Regions from separate parts of the Homo sapiens genome. Here region 1 is linked to region 2. The links come from fine-mapping of genetic effects on gene expression. A gene starts in region 2. The other region holds a variant in brackets. All regions are shown on one strand. Distances are from middle to middle. Region 1 holds the start of AGT (angiotensinogen). Region 2 holds the start of CAPN9-AS1 (CAPN9 antisense RNA 1).

Region 1 (8,302 bases), 80 kb before region 2:
CCTCAACCCCAGGACCTCAGAATGTGACCATTATTTGGAGACAGGATCTTTAAAGAGATGATTAAGTTAAAATGAGGCCATGAGGGTGAGCCCTGATCTAATATGACCTGTGTCCTTATGAGAAGAGGAGATGAGGACATGGACACACACAGAGGGAAGACCATGTGGGGACACAGAGGGAAGACCATGTGGGGACACAGAGAGAAGACGGCCATCTACAAGCCAAGGATAGAGGACCCAGAGGAAACCAACTCTGCTGATGGCTGGCTCCCAGGCTTCTAGCTTCCAGAACTGTGAGATAACACATTTCTGTTGTTAAACCCTCCCAGTCTGTGGTACTTATGGCAGCCCAAGCAGATTAAGACATGCTCCTGCCTGCAGCTGTAAGTTCTCTTCCTAGAGAAACAAGTGTGTGCCAATCAGTAGGTCTTTGTGGAGGCCTCCTAGACCCCTGAGATGCTCATTCGAGGGCCCTAGGGTGAGGGCTGGGGATGGTTTTGTCATCTCCCTGTGGTCCCAACATGCAGCCGGGATTGAGCACCACAGGCTCAGCCCAAAGTCCAAGTATTTCCCACGTGTCTCAACCCCAAAACCAGCTCTCAACCATCCCTGCATAGCGCTATCCCCTGCAGAGCCCCAAAGGCATGCATACCTAGCATGGCTTGCCCAATGATAGTTGGATTCCTTAGTCTGTGCTGGGACCACGTATAAAAAAAAAAAAAAAAAAATAGAAAATTCTCAGGTGACTCTGATATGTAAGCAGGGTTTAGAACCCCTGCCCTAGACACGGGTCCAGCACCACGTTCTCTCAAAGGCCTTGCAGCTGGGCTTCAGCCTCAGCTGCTACAAATGAAAGCTACCCTGAGACCCCCAGAAGAGGTTCTTGGGCTGGCCCTGCTAATTCATTTCATCTGACTCTTCTTGATTGAAGGGATGAACGTTTATTCTATTGATTCATTCAATTCTAACATTTTGTACCACATCTCACTCATTTCTTGTGGAGGGGGGTGTACTGCAATATCGTCACTTCTTGGCCTTTTCTGTCCCCCCAGGGCTAGGCCAGGCTTCCTTGGAGCTGTAGCGTGTCATCACTGACTCAAGGCCACCTTGATGCCTAGATTTTTCTGCTTCATCTAAGCATACCCAGTCATTCTTCTTACATTGGCAGCTGGCTTCCCTCACCCAGACCCGTAACCAGCACCTGCCCTCAACACGGTGCAGCTGCTGAAGTACCTGGTGTGTTTTGTTCTGCTTCAGTCATTCAAATGCCAAATTCTGACCTCAGCTACCATCTCACCCCACTCCCCATGCATTTGACTCCATCCGCTGTTCTCAGGAAGAGCCACATGACATGGAAAAATGGAACAGAAAACTCTCTCTGCTGCTTGCAGGCCTTTCTGTGCAGAGAAGCCTAAGCCACCAGTTCACACCTAATCTAGACAGTCACATCAAATCAGGTCAACAGGGGAAACCTGTGGGAACCGACTGCTGGGAAGTCCTGCCTGACAAGCGCCAACTGTTCGGGGTTTGGATGGCGCTGGTCGATGCAGCCCGCTCACTGTGCTGCTCCTGCTCAGGCAGCGTCTCCAGAGACGCAATTCCATGGGCCATTTTTGAGGCAGAGACTGTCGTTTGTTCTCAGTTGTGATCTGCGGCTGCTCCCTAGGCTGGTTCCAGGTCTGCACGCAGCCGCGTCCTGGGAGTAATGGTGCTCTGGGGTGGCGGGCCTGACACCCTCGCCCTGAGTGCCCCTCCGCCTTCTCCTCTCCTGCCCCTGCCTCTTGGCCAGCACCTGCCCCTTCTATGTCTCCCTACTTCTCCCGGGCTGAATGCTAAAGGTGAAGATGACGGCTCATGCTCCTGTGGTGCCTGCCATTTGCAGGGCACTGTTCTCATATCAACCCCTCTGACCTCACCATAGTCCTCACCTTCCCTGAGGTTTCCCTGATGCAGTATTTCACCCTGCAGCTTTCCCCACCACACCGGGCACTCTCAACTCTCTCATCCAGCTCCCCTTTTCCCTCCTTATAACCCTCTGTACCATGTAGTTATGCACTTATTCTGTCCAGCGTCTTTGTCTGTTTGCTCTGATGTGAATGTGAGCCCCGGAACAGGGTTCCCGCTGTTGTGTTTACTAATACAGCCCACATTCCTAGGATAGTCCCTGGGACCTACTGCATCCTGGAGAAGTAGTTAATGAATTGGTTCATGCTGTTTTGCAGAGGAACAGAGAGGTCCAGTGACTTGTTCAACGTCACACAGCTGGGAAGAGACAGAACTAGGACTCAGAACCAGGCCCCCTGACTCTGTCATCCACGAGCTGAAGCACCAATCTACGCTGCCCTCGAATAAAATTGGAATCTGCCTTTTAGCTTATCCCAAAGCTTAGAAAGCACTTTCATGTTATATTAGTTCTCTTCAGCTATACCAGAGCCCCTGAGACAGGGAGCCCAGGCATCGTTATTAGTTCCATTTTATAGGTGAGCAAATCGAGGTTCAGGGAGATGGTGACCAGCCTGATGACACACAGTCAGGCAGTCTGTCTCGAGGGAGGGGTAGGGTGACCACTCTGGGGATCCCAGCTGGAGACTGACCGAGCCCGGCCCTTCCCTCCAGCCCCAATTCCTGCACAAGCCCTGCTATTCCTCCTGATGGCAAGAGGACCCGGTGGACTCTTGGCCATGATGACTCTGTTCCTGTACCAGTCTGCTCCGTTCCTGAGGACCCTAACTTTTCTCAGCGGAAGCAGGAAGACCTGACCATCTTGTCCTATTGCTGAGGAGGAGCAGCTCCTCCTGTAAGACCCCAGGTGGGCACCGAGTGGGGGAAAGCCCGCGTCCGGATGACTGGTCTTATGAGAGGGGAGAGGTTTTTCAGTCATCACCGTGCCTCCTCCCGGCCTTTTCCTCCTAGCCCACAGCTCAGTTACATCTGAGAGAGACAAGACCGAGAAGGAGCTGAGGGGGCCCCCGGCTTACCTTCTGCTGTAGTACCCAGAACAACGGCAGCTTCTTCCCCCGGCCGGGTCACGA[T/G]GCCCTATTTATAGCTGAGGGGTGGGGATGGAGCTGTTCCCAGGCTGCCTGTGCACAGGCTGGAGAGGAGGGTTACATCACTTGGCCAGACCACAGGCTGGCCAGAAGGACAGATGCCAGAAGCGACACTCACGCTGGGACCTCTTCCAGGAAGTCTTAGTGATCGATGCAGAGTTTCACTGCTGAACAGAGTGAGCCGGTGCAGGGTCGAGTTACACATTTACCGAAGTTTGCAGGAGTCGGGGCCAAGGTTCCCAGAAACGGGAGCATCTCCCTAGGTGTGTGACAGCCTGAGGCCAACCACCCAGGCCTTCTGACCCAGCCCCGGGAGATGTACCCCCAAGAGGCCACAGGGACATGCAGGCCGGAGGTGCAGAGGGCAGAGGGCAGGGGAGAGTCTTGCTTAGGCAACACGGGGGCCACTTCTGACCCTGCTGCCCGCTCATGGGATGTGTGACCTTCAGCTGCTCCAAAGAGCCTACCCTGTGCAAAGGCCTCTAATAGACACTGGGGAAAACACACAAGCAAGTGAAAAGTGCCTTCTGGAAGTTTCCAGTGTAGCTGGGGAGACTGTTAAACACCAACAATAGCACAGCCAGATTGAAAGACACAAACAAAATGCCTTCAGGATGCAGGCATTGAAAGATGTGCTGTTCTGTGTTTATGCTGTACAAATTGCAAATGGTAAGTTTCACATGACCAGTAAAAGGGTTATAATTCTTATTTTCCTATAGGTAAGACTTGCTTTTGTAGTCATTATAACAGGGCATGACAGAGACCTTGGTGAGAGTCGCCAGAAGCCAGTGATCACAAGTGACGCAGTGGGTGAGGCAGGTTGGGAGTGGTGATGTGTCCAGCCTTAAATACATGGTATTAGGGCACTGAAGGGACAGGAAGGAAGATCCTGCTTCAACACAAGCAGGTTCAAGGAGCCACGGCATATCCACGATGGCAGACATGAAATTACCCAGGAATGGAACATTTAACAACAAAGAGCAGGAAGAGATGGTGCCTGGATATGAGGCAGAAGCTGTACATTCACTGACTGAACAATCAACAAACACACAAATACCTCTTTTTTACCCATTACTCTAAATCTTCATTTAAAAAAATCATATCTCACATGGGCCTGTAAATTCTGAAATACATTTTTTTAATTACTTTGTTCCTATAGATAGGGACTCCTCAAAAATCACTTGTCTGGGGCCCCACAGCGACTTAGAGGTGGCTTTGTCTGAACAGAACATTCGGGCCAGGTACAGTGCCTCGCATCTGTAATTCAAACACTTTTTGAGGCCAGGAGATGGAGGTTACAGTGAGCTATGATTGCACCACTGCACTCGAGCCTGGGCTACAGAGTAAGACTCTGTCTCTAAATAAATAGACAATTTTAATTTAATTTTTTTAAAATAAGAGACCATTCAAAGTGCTCCTGCCTGCGAATGGGTTAGTTGGAACAGTAGAGACTGGGGTCCTAGGCCTGGCTGTGCCACTAACTAGTTGTTTGAGGATCAGCAAGTGGTTTAACTGCAGTAACAAGTCCACCTGGACACAAGGGGGAGGTAAGGATCTAGCACTGATTAAGCAACAACCTTGTGCCCAGTGTTTAAATATTTCGGCTCTTTAAAGCCTCACAATTTGTTTCATTCACTCACTATTCCTGGTGCTCAGCATATGTCAGGGAACAAAACAAAGATCCTGGTCTTTGGGAGAGTTTCCACTGTGCCTGGGCCTCCTGCCTCGGGCCCTTGGAATGATCACTCCATTCAACAGCAAAGATAATAAACAACTGATCAGGTAACATGCTGGAAAGTGGTGTAAAAGAAAATAAAATTTCAGGACCCTCTAAATTTGGCCTCTAAGCAAGCCAAACTTCTCTTAATAATGACACGTTACTGGGGAGAACATAAGAAAATAATTTTGGTTAGATTGGACCCAATAAAGAATATCTGCTTAAACTTGTTGCAAGATTGGTTAAAAGCCCTTAATCCATGCCCAAGGCTGACTATCAGCTGGGGGATCTTCTACGTAAGGCTTTAAAGCTCATTAAAATCAATCAGAAAATTGCTAGAGAATTTTATTGAGAATGTAAATTATTCCCATAAGGAGCAGCCATTCAAACTGACTGCAGACATTTGACCCAGCTCAGATTCAGGCCAGTTTTCTTCCCAGTAGGCACCTTCTGTGTTCATTCCATCAGTGGAAGTTTCTTATGTGTACATTCCATCAGTGGAAGTTAGGGACAGAGCTTATCTGTGGCTAAATGAAGACTGTTGAATGAAAAGCAGAGGTTCTACATAGAAACCAAATAAGCCATCTGATATGGTTTGGCTGTGTCCCCACCCAAATCTCCAATTGTAGCTCCCATAATTCCCATGTGTCATGGGAGGGACCCAGTGGGAGGTAATTGAATCATGAGGGTGGATCTTTCTGATGCTGTTCTTGTGATAGTGCATAAGTCTCATGAGATCTGATGGTTTTATAAAGGGGAGTTCCCCTGAACATGCTTTCTCTCTTTTGCCAGCCACCATGTAAGATGTGCTTTTGCTCCTCCTTCACCTTCCACCATGATTGTGAGGCCTCCCCAGCCACGTGGAACACATAAGTCCATTAAACCTCTTTTTCTTTATAAATTACCCAGTCTCTGGTATGTCTTTATTAGCAGCGTGAGAACAGATACCATCAGTCAGAATCGGATCCAGGAAACCAGCCACATATGGAGTCAGCAGAGCATGATGTATTAGTCAGGCAGGTGCTATTGGGATATGTAGGGAAAAAAAAGAGAGATCAGACTGTTACTGTGTCTATATAGAAAGGGAAGACATAAGAGACTCCATTTTGAAAAAGAGCTGTACTTTAAACAATTGCTTTGCTGAGATGTTGTTAATTTGTAGCTTTGCCCCAGCCACTTTGACACAGCCCTAGATCCCTTAAACCTTGATTTTATACAACACATGTTTTTGTGAGCTCCAGGTTGGGTCAAAGTGGCTGGGGCAAAGCTACAAATTAACAACATCTCAGCAAAGCAATTGTTTAAAGTATAGCTCTTTTTCAAAATGGAGTCTCTTATGTCTTCCCTTTCTATATAGACACAGTAACAGTCTGATCTCTCTTTCTTTTCCCTACAGGGATGATGACGTTTGGGATCAGTTCTACTCTGTGGTTTCTGAGATGAGACTTGGTCTAAACTAGAACTCCTACTTTCCAATCTCTTGACCACCCAGCTAGTCATGGGATGAACACATAAACTCCTCTCTCCAGCAAAACTAAACCAAACCAGGAAAGCAGATTATTTATTTATGTATATGATGCAATCAAACCTGGAACCAGCTGTATGAGGTAAGGAAAGAATGAAGGGTAAATACAGGAATGGGGTTTCCATTTTTTGCCTCTGAGCCAAAACTAATTGTTTCACAGGAGCCTTGTTCTCTGCTGGGATCAGAACTGCAACCCCACATCATGCCTTGGAAGAGGCATGTGAGCCCTGAACATCATTTACTGGAAAGCAGGAAGAGGGGTGGAGCCTACTGTCCTGCATCCCATGATGGATCCTTGAAGTTCCAAGTTTTCCTTGCATGACAAGGACACTTCCCAGCATTTCTGGTCCTCATTGCTGCCCATCTATATCATGGGGGCTGGAACCGGGCATTTGGAGCTCTCGATTTGTAAAATGGGCTCATTAGGGAAAAGTCCATTTCTTTCCAATAAAGAACACTCAAATACAAACAGAATTTTCTTAAGTTGGCTCACATGGGCTTTAGACTCCTGACAAATAAAACAAAATAGTCTGAGCTCCCCCATTTCACCCAGGAGAAATGGCTGTATTTTTGTGTGTTGTTTTAGAGTTGGGGTCTTGCTCTGTCCTCCAAACTGGAGTGCAGTGGCATGATCATGTCTCAAAGAATCCTCCTGCCTCAGTCTCCAGAGTAACTAGGACTACAGGTGCATGCTACCATATCTGGCTAATTTTTTTATTTTTATTTTTTGTAGAGATAGGGTCTTGCTATGTTGCCCAGGCTGATCTTGAACTACTGGTCTCAAGTGATCCTCCTACCTCAACTTCCCAAAGTGTTGGGATTACAGGCATAAGCCACCATTCTCAGCCTGTTCTTTCTTTTTTAATAATAATTTTTATTGTATTTATATAAGGTGTACAGCATGATATTTTGATATGAAGATAGTAAAATGATTATGGTAGTCAAGAAAATTAACATATCCATCATCTCACAGTTACTCATTTAGGTGGCAAGGACACGTAAAGTCTACTCTTTTAGCAAAAATCCCAAGTGCAATGTGACATTTTTAAGTATAGTCCTCATGTTGTACGCTGGATCTCTAGACTTGTTCATCGTATATATCTGCTGCTTTGTATCATTTGACCTACATCTCCTCCCTGCTCTCCTCCTCAACTCCTGGTAACCACTGTTGTATTCTCTATCTCTGTATATTCACTTTAAAAAAAAAAAAGATTCCACATATAAATGAGGTCATGCAGTATTTTCCTTTCTGTATCTGCCTTGTTTCATTTAGCATAATGTCTTCCAGTCATCCATGTTGTAGCAAGCGGCACAGTTCCACACCGCTTTTTTTTTTTTTTTTTTTGTGAGACAGGGTCTCACTTTGTCACCCAGGCTGGAGTGCAGTGGCACAATCATGGCTCACTGCAGTCTTGACCTCCCTGGCTTAAGTGATCCACCCACCTCTGCCTCCCTGGTAGTTGGGACTACAGATGCATGCCATGACACCTGGCCAACTTTTTTGTACTTTTTTGTAGAGACAGGGTTTCACCATGGTGCCCAGGCTGGTCTCAAACTCCTGAGCTCAAGTGATCTGCCCACCTCAGCCTCCCGGAGTGCTGGGATTAAGACATGAGCCACCATGCCTGGCCTTTATGCTTTTTTGAAGGCTGAATAGTATCCCATTGTGTGTATACAGTATGCCAAATCTTTATCTATTCATCTGTTGACAGACAGAAGTCGTTTCCATATCCTGGCTATTGTGAATAATGCTGCATTGAACTTGGGAGTGCAGATATTGTTACTAGGTGTTGACTTTATTTCCTTTGGTATATTCCCAGATGCCTGCTCCTCCTATTGAATCCTTTTAGACATCACCTGATACCTCGGGCAGTGCCCTATGGACTGCTGTTGATTCAGACATAGCTGTCCATGAGCTGGAGGAAAACGGTCATATAAGATAAAGTTCTGGGAAATTTTGTGATTGCAGCACATTTCTTTCTATTTTTTATTATTATTATTATCATTATGTTT
Region 2 (8,333 bases):
TCCAGGCTGGGCAACAGAGCAATACTCCGTTTCAGGGGGAAAAAAAGGAATCATACAATATGTGGTCCTTTCTGACTGGCTTTTCTCACATGGTGTGATGTTTTCCAGGTCCATCCATGCTGTAGCATGTATCAATGTCTCATTCCTTCTTACAGCCAGACAACATTCCATCGTATGGATGGGCCCTGTTCTGTTTATTCATTCATCTATTGGTGGCCACGTGGGTTGTTACCGGTTTTTGGTCATTATGAATAATGCAACTGTAAACACTCCTATACAAGTTTTTTGGGTGGGCATGTGTTTTTACTTCTCCTGGGTATATAGTTATGAGGATGGTTCCATCACAATGCAACAGTCTATGGTTACATGGTGGCATAACCATCCTCTTAATTATATGTTTAGTTAAGAGGATTGCTTAACTCTATGTTTAATGTTTTTAAAAACTATCCAACTGTTTTCTAAAGTGACTATTTCACATTTTCACCAGCAGCAGTATGGGAGTACAAATTTCTCCAACAAATTTAAATCCTGCCATTAAATATGCTGCAAAAACATGATTCCTAAGGGTCGTATAATACTTCATTATATAGACATAGCCTAAGGTATTGACCATGCCTCTCTATTGGTCATTATTTCACTTCCAAATTTTTGCCACTATAAATAATATGATGACAAAAATCTTCATATGTTATTCTTTGCTCGGGGTTCTTAGAACTAGAATAAATGGATGAAGGCGTATTCCCACTTTTATTGCTTTTTTCACATTTAGCCAATTTTCCTTCTGAAAGGTCATGTTAACTTCTACTCCTACCAGCATCATAAGAGAGTAGCCACATCACAGCCCCCAACAGCCCTGGATTTAGCCACATTATTGGGCTTTCAGCAGATGGGTACATAGGTTTATCTTATCGGGTCAACTGAATTCAGCTTTCATGTGCAATTTCAGAAAAGGACATCAAATTCAAGAAGCTAAGCCTGATCTCCTGTAAAAACATCATTTCCCTGATGGACGTATCCTTCCAAATATTTGAGCAGAAATAGACATGGATCCTGGGCTTTAAGCACAGTAGAGTAATCTTCAATAGTGCAGACTCTCCAAGAACATGACATCCTTAGCCAGCAGAATAGTCTTCTTCACAGAAAATAACCCAAAGCTGGGGGACCCCCATGCTGAAATTGGATCAGAATCAAGATGCACAAGACTGCCTAGTGGTGGGGGTGGGGAGCTTTTGAAGGGACTTGGGGGTCTTCTTGCCACTTTGGGATCCCATCCAAGGGAACAGAGTTCTGTTTTTGTGAACTTTCCGGGACCACCCCCATTCCACTTCTGCCGTTTCCCCTCTTCAGAGATTTGTGGTTTAATCATTAAAACCACTTCCCCAGGGCCCCAAACCTGTGCACCCAGGCCAGCCCATCGGCCCTCCCCCTCTGCAGTCCCAGAGCTGAGGTCCCACGAGGAGCCTCAGGTTGAAACACTGCTCATGTCTCCCTTAACCCACATGGCACAGACCAGCGGCAATGGGAAGCTGGAGTTTGATGAATTCAAAGTGTTCTGGGACAAGCTGAAGCAGTGGATTGTATGTAACCTGGAGCAGGGCTTGGCCTCTGGGGGACCCAGTGAACCTAGAGCAGAGGGGATTTAAAATGGTGCAGCAGGCTGCAGGCTATAGGCTAGAGGAATTGTATTCGGACAGGGGAGAAGGGAAAACAGCATCATGCTATTCCGATGCTTACGGGAGTACCACCGTGCTTCCACCCAAGACGAAAAGGAAGACAAAAGGGAGACCGACTTCTTTTGGAAGGCCCAGTCCAACTGTGGCCTCTGCGGCCCCTAGAGGGTAGCTCCCCCGGGCTGGCTGTCACCCATTTACTGCCATCAGCGATGCCTTTCAGGCACGCTCCTTCTCAAGGCTTCTGCTCTCCACCCTTTAGAACCTTTTCCTTCGGTTTGATGCTGACAAGTCCGGCACCATGTCTACCTATGAACTACGGACTGCACTGAAAGCTGCAGGTAAAGAAAAGACTGGAGTACAGGTGGCTGACTGCATGCCAGGTACTGCCTGTGGGCAACCTGAGCAGATGGCAGGTCTTCTCTCTGCTGCCCAGGAGGTGGGCCTCTGAGCCCAGTTGGTGATTCTTAAGGTCACGGCCCTTGGAGTGGTGGCACCAGGGTTCAGACCCAGGACTCACTTCCTGACACCAGGGCCCTCATTTTAAACCACTGTGAACATTGGTAGAAACTTTTTAAATGTATCTGCTAAAAATGAACTTGGCCTGCCCTCTGGAGGCCTCATAGCCTCTGACCATGTTTTCTGGCCCAGTACTTAACACATGGCTCTTTGGTGGCAAGCTGCAGTGATTCCAAACTTCTCATTTCTGCTCTCAGATGGTTGTTATCGTGGATGAGACAGAGCATGCAGCACCCATGGTTTGGGGTCCGCACGTCCCTCTGCCACCTGTGGCCCTGTCCCGGGTTTTATCAGCATCAGACTCTGAATCCAAAATGGATGACTGCATCATAGTTTATACCCTGCTCCCTTACCCAAAGGCTGGGCTCCAGGTGGCATTTCCCACTCTTGTCCGGTGCTGGATGGCTGTCGGCATCTCTGTGGTCCCATGTCCTGCACACACAACCGTAGTTTCCACGAGCGCTCTGCAGACCTCCCGCCTGCCGGGCTGCCTGCGCTTCTCACCAAGCACACCTCACAGATAGGGGCCTCCTGAACCTTTTAAAGTGGTTCTCTCCCAGGGAAAGCAAAATCTGGAAACATGTCCAGGCTCAGGCCTGATAAAAGGATGAAGTATACACAGCCAGGACCATCTCGGGTCCTATGTGAGGGAGAAGAAAATCAGATGATTTATAAATGAGCAAAGTGCCAGGCTGAGAAGGGGCGCCTGATTTTCTTAGGGGATGATGACTCTGTTTCCATGGTAGGAGGAGGAACTGAGCAGGGGACAAAGGGAGCACTCAGAGAGGAGGGGCATGGCTGTGTCTTTCCTACCCTGACGTGGTGTGGGGAGAATCGCCCCTCATCCCCCTCCTCTAGCCCCAAACATCAGGATTCTGGCCAAGGCTGGCAGCCAGCACTGCCGTGCAGGCTCCAGGGACTCTGTGCTCTGTGTCTGACCTGCCTGCTCCTCTGCTGGAATTAGGAAGAAGCAGAAAGACCCTGGGTGGATTTCTGAACAATCCTGTGAACACCTCCTAGAAAGTGAACATGTAGACAAAAATGAAAGGGGGAAAGAAATCACTTCTAAGGGCACTAATTAGAAATCAAAGCACTGGCCAGGTGTGGTGGCTCACACCTGTAATGCTAGCACTTTGGGAGGCCTAGGTGGGTGGATCATGAGGTCAGGAGTTTGAGATCAGCCTGGCCAACATGATGAAACCCCGCCTCTACTAAAAATACAAAATTAACCAGTTGTGGTGGCAGGTGCCTGTAGTCCCAGCTACTCAGGAGGCTGCAGCAGAAGAATCACTTGAAATCAGAAGGCAGAAGTTGCACTGAGCCGAGATTGCACCACTGCACTCCAGCCTGGGCAACAAGAGTGAAACTCCATCTCAAAAAAAAAAATCTAAATATCAAATCCAGAAGGAAGTTCACTTTGTCTAAACTCCTCATTTGACAATGAGGAAACCAAAGCCCAGAGAACTGAACCCATATGCCACGGCTGGAGCAGTGCCAGGGCTCAGATCCAAGCCTCCTGGCTATAGCCTGTCATTCTTCCCCCATCGTGGATGTGTAGGAATGGGCCCTGGCAGAGTATCATTCTCCGTGGGCAGCAGCATCCCCTCCAAGAAACTTTCTAGGGCCACAGCTGGAAGTGACCTGAGACATAGAACGCGAGGGGAGGCTGGTGTAGGAATGAACTTGGGGCTCAGACACCACCCAGTGTTAAGTTCCCCCAAACAAAGCTTCCTGTAAAGTCAGCGAGACTCTATGGGTGATGTTAGCATCAAAATTAAGATCACAAACTCGCTAAACTCAGAAGCCATTAAACACAGAAAGCACGCCTGAGAGTCCCCCGCACACTCGCCCCTGCACCACAGATTCACACTCTCACGCTGCATTCACACCAAGGGCAGCAGTCCCACTGGGTCTGGGGACCCCAGCTTTGAGGAGTGAAACAGTGGCTTCCTCTTCTGAGCCCTCTCCTCAGCTGCCTGGGAGCTCCCTCAAAGGTGCAGACTCACCTCGGGGCTCGGATACAGCGAGTCCTGGGTCTCCTCCTTTGTCCCCACAGGCTTTCAGCTGAGCAGCCACCTCCTGCAGCTGATTGTGCTCAGGTATGCGGATGAGGAGCTCCAGCTGGACTTCGATGACTTCCTCAACTGCCTGGTCCGGCTGGAGAATGCGAGCCGTAAGTGTCCAGCGAGGCTGAGGGTGCACCTCGGGGTGGCATCTTCAGTCACCCTCCATGAGCGCATGAGAAACAGCCTGGTTAAAGTAATGGCAAAGATAGACCACAGAGAGCCATGGTCTGATGTGTGTGGACCCATGGGCCTGTGCGGTTAGCTAAGGAGCAGAATGTGCCAGCCTCCCCTGCAGCACGTTTCTTAGCATCGCCTTTCTTTATACATTCACAGTGCCTCTGTGGGAGGATGATGGGCTGGGGCAGGTTTGTGCCTTGTGTTTGAGGAAAGGTTCAATTGCAGGTCAAATCCCATCATAGCATATAGAAACAGGAGAGTCTCAGTCCCCCTTCCTCCCCCCTTCCCCGCCCTGTAAGCCCTAGACATTGACCCAGTTATCTCAAATAAGATTTGTTACACCACAAATAGAGAGGGATTATGTGCCCGTGCGCTTCAGTGTTTGCAGTTTATTGTCATAGCCATCCTGCCCCTCAAAGGTGGTTTTGAAGGTGAGGCTGAGTGAAGCATGTCCAGGGCCTGTAACTCAGTACTGGAGTGGCTATGAGGACATGCCCTGTGTGCAGGTGCCAAAGGACCCGTGCCCTCAAGGGTGCCTCGTGCTTGGTTTAATGTTCTGGCGTTTCCATCTTGAAAGTCTTCACAACTTAGGAGCAGGGGGCCCCGCATTTCCATTTTGTCCTGCTTGGTATTTTCTAATCTATGTTCCATAGGCCACTTCGAGGTATGAATACTTGATTAAAAAAAAAAAAAAGGCAGGGGGCTGGGCACAGTGGCTCACGCCTGTAATCCCAGCACTTTGGGAGGTTGAGGCAGTTGGATCGTGAGGTCAGGAGCTCGAGACCAGCTCATAGCGAAACTTTGTCTCTACTAAAAATACAAAAAATTAGTCAAATGTGGTGGTATGCACCTGTAATCCCAGCTACTCGGGAGGCTGAGGCAGGAGAACCCCTTGAACCTGGGAGGTGGAGGTTGCAGTGAGCTGAGGTTTGCCACTGCACTCCAGCCTGGGCAACAGTGGGAGACTCCATCTCAAAAATATAAATAAATAAATAAATAAATAAATAAATAAATAAATAAATAATAAAATTAAATTAAATTAAAATAAAAAGGTGAGGGCTGTGACCCTTGGTTATCAGCATGATAGCTCCCTCTGCTTCTTTGGTAATAGAACACTAATTACTTGCCTGAAGCACAGCCCCTCTAGACTCTAAGCTCCAGGAGAGCCGTAATTTCTGGACAATCAATGAGTATGTGTTGATTAAGGAATGATGAGAGAAAATCAGAGACAGACCAGCAGGCCCCAAAGGGTCTAGTATATCAAGCCAGGAAGCCGGCTTTCCCTAAGGGGTTACTGGTAGCTAGTGAGAGGTGCATTCTAGAAAGACCCCTCCTGAAACAGAATCCGTTATTAGACTTACAGGGTGGTCAGAGCTGACCCTAGAAATAATGAGATTTGCTAGTTTCTCTTCTCTCCATTGCTCTTTCCCTTTCTAAACCACCCAGGTGTAATCCTTCCCAGAACGGGGGGTGGGAGTGCCTCAGCTTTTCTTATAGTAGAGGAATATTAGGGTGAAGACCCTTTAGGCTTAACACCATCCACTCTGGCATCCTCACATTAGATTTGCCTGGAGAACTTTTAGAATTACCAAGGATGGAGCTTTGCTGCAGTATTATTTTAACTTTTTATTGTAAGAATGTCAACCCTCCAGTTAGATATAAAGAATCATAATAGGTTCCCATGCACTCCACATCAGCACTTCTCAAACTTCGCTGTACATTACAATCTCCAGGGGTGCCTAAAGAAATGCTGATGACCAGGCTGCACAGTTGACCAATTCTGTTAGAATCTCAGGGGTGGCACACAGCATTGGGAGTTACGCAAATTCGCCAGGTGTTTCCAGACCTTTACACCCAACCTCAACAATTACCATCTTGCTAACTTTTCCCTTGTGCTCCCGCAACACATACATTTTCCCCCTAAATAATTTAATAGCAGATCTCAGAAACTCTGTCCATTCATCTGAGTATCTCCAGCTGATAGACTTGTTTTTAGCATCATCTTCATACCATTTGCACACCTAACGAAATTCTCAGCAAACCCTCAACATTCTCTAGTGCCCGGTTCATGCCCAAGTCTTCCAGGCCACCTTTTTACAGTTGCTTGGTTGACTCAGGATCCACACAAGACCCAGTCACCATGTTTGGTTGTTGGGTCTCTTCCATTTCTTGTGTCCAGTGATGGTCCCCCACCCCGCTTTGGGTTGTATTATTAAAGCTACCCGAGAGATTCTCAAGTGAAGCCAGGGCTGATTGGCTCGACCTCGTCTTCTGAAGGTGAGGAGGCTGAGGCCCCAAGAGGGCAGTGACTTGCTCAGGTGCACTCAGGTCACTACACCATGCGGTAGACCCAGCCCCCAGCTCAGTGCTGGCACGCTCTCCTGTGCCACTCTGTCCTCTGACAGCACCCACGGCACCTTCCTACAAGGGCGAGACTAACAACTTTCAGATTCATGCAAAACTTTACGTGCGTGTGCTTTTTTTCTGGGGCCTATGGATTTCAAGGGCCCTGTACCCCCCAGAAGGTTAAGATAGGGGCGTTGCTTTGGCTCCAGGAGCTGCTGGCCGGCTGACTGGCTTAGGTGACCACTGGCTTGCTACAGGACTGGATGCCTCCATCCGTTCAGAGAAGTTCACCTTCAGCCCGCCCTTGATGAGAGTCCCATCGCCGCCCTTGATGAAAGTCCTTGTTTACCACCAGATGGAGCAGCTTCCCCACAGGCTCCACTGGAAGGCCCTTTGGTCGCTGGGAAACAAACTTGGTAAAGGAATTGTCTTTAAAAGGATGCCTTTCCCCCTTCTCTCCTATCAGGGGTGTTCCAGGCTCTCAGTACAAAGAACAAGGAGTTCATTCATCTCAATATAAATGAGGTATGGCCAATCCAGACCCTCTGCTCAGGGACCCAGCTGGGGCCCAGCAGAGTCCACGCTGCATAGATGTTTGCCGAATGCTTGATTTCATGCAAGGGCTGACATCTAGCTGTGGGAGTGATTATAACAAAATAGCTAATATTTTTGAGATACTATTTATCAAGTAATCAATTAAGCCATTACAATAATTCTGTGAGCTAAGTACCAATAGTATCCCCATTTTGCAGGGTGGAAACTGAGGCATAGAGAGATTAATCACCTTGACTTGAGTGAGTGAGCAGACTCTGCCTTCTTGTCCTTCTCTTCCTTCTGTCATTTGGGTAACTTAGCCTGCCTGCCTTCCAGCTGCCAGTTTGCTCACTCTCCCTTGCTCATGTTGTCCCGTGGTTCCCATGACACTCCCCCAGACTCCAATAAGTACAAAACTGGCCAGTTACCGGGGCCATTGTAGCAATGACGGGGGTGGGAGACCATGGGTCTGAGTGTCAGAGGTATGGGAGAAGGATTCCAGGGGGTTTCAATCACCCTCTCCCCAGAGGATCCCAGTGGACCCATCTGCTCACAGGGAGGTCCATGGGCCAGCAGCAGCATAGGCATCACTTAGGAGAGAGCGTTGGAAATGCAGAGTGCCAGGCCCTGCCCCAGACCTGCTGAATGGAAGTCGTCTTTCACAGGACCCCACTGATTCCTGTGCACATGAAGCTTGGGAACGCTCTTGAGACATTCTCCTGCCCAAAGGCAGAGGGGAAACTGTGGAGCAGTTTCCTTCAATGGTTCTGTAATTTTTATCTCCCTTTTCCTTCTTTCCCTCCCTGTATCTTTCTTTCCAGGTCTGCTTTCTCTTCTACCTAACAACTCTGAAGCCAGGCAGCCTGTGGCTCCTCCCCAGTCTCTGGAGTTTCTCCTCTCCACCAATTTCCATACTCACAGTCACAGCCAGCTCATTTCCAAATTCATTAGTAACTTTGGGTTTGGATAACATTTAATTGAATATTTCAAGATGAAGAGGTTGATGACAGTATGTGTTTTA

Evidence for each region.
Region 1: its variant is fine-mapped to the expression of CAPN9-AS1 in lung (TOPMed, PIP above 0.99).

What each region holds. Positions count from the first base shown.
Region 1 is chr1:230,711,108-230,719,409 of GRCh38, forward strand. It overlaps AGT (angiotensinogen), which reads right to left and starts at 3,015. Exons shown (of 5, transcript NM_001384479.1): 1 at 2,979-3,015. The variant T/G (reference allele first, on the strand shown) is at 3,033.
Region 2 is chr1:230,790,918-230,799,250 of GRCh38, forward strand. It overlaps CAPN9-AS1 (CAPN9 antisense RNA 1), which reads right to left and starts at 4,294. Exons shown (of 2, transcript XR_001738518.2): 1 at 4,196-4,294. It overlaps CAPN9 (calpain 9), which reads left to right. Exons shown (of 20, transcript NM_006615.3): 15 at 947-1,011; 16 at 1,509-1,577; 17 at 1,933-2,011; 18 at 4,246-4,362; 19 at 7,245-7,303.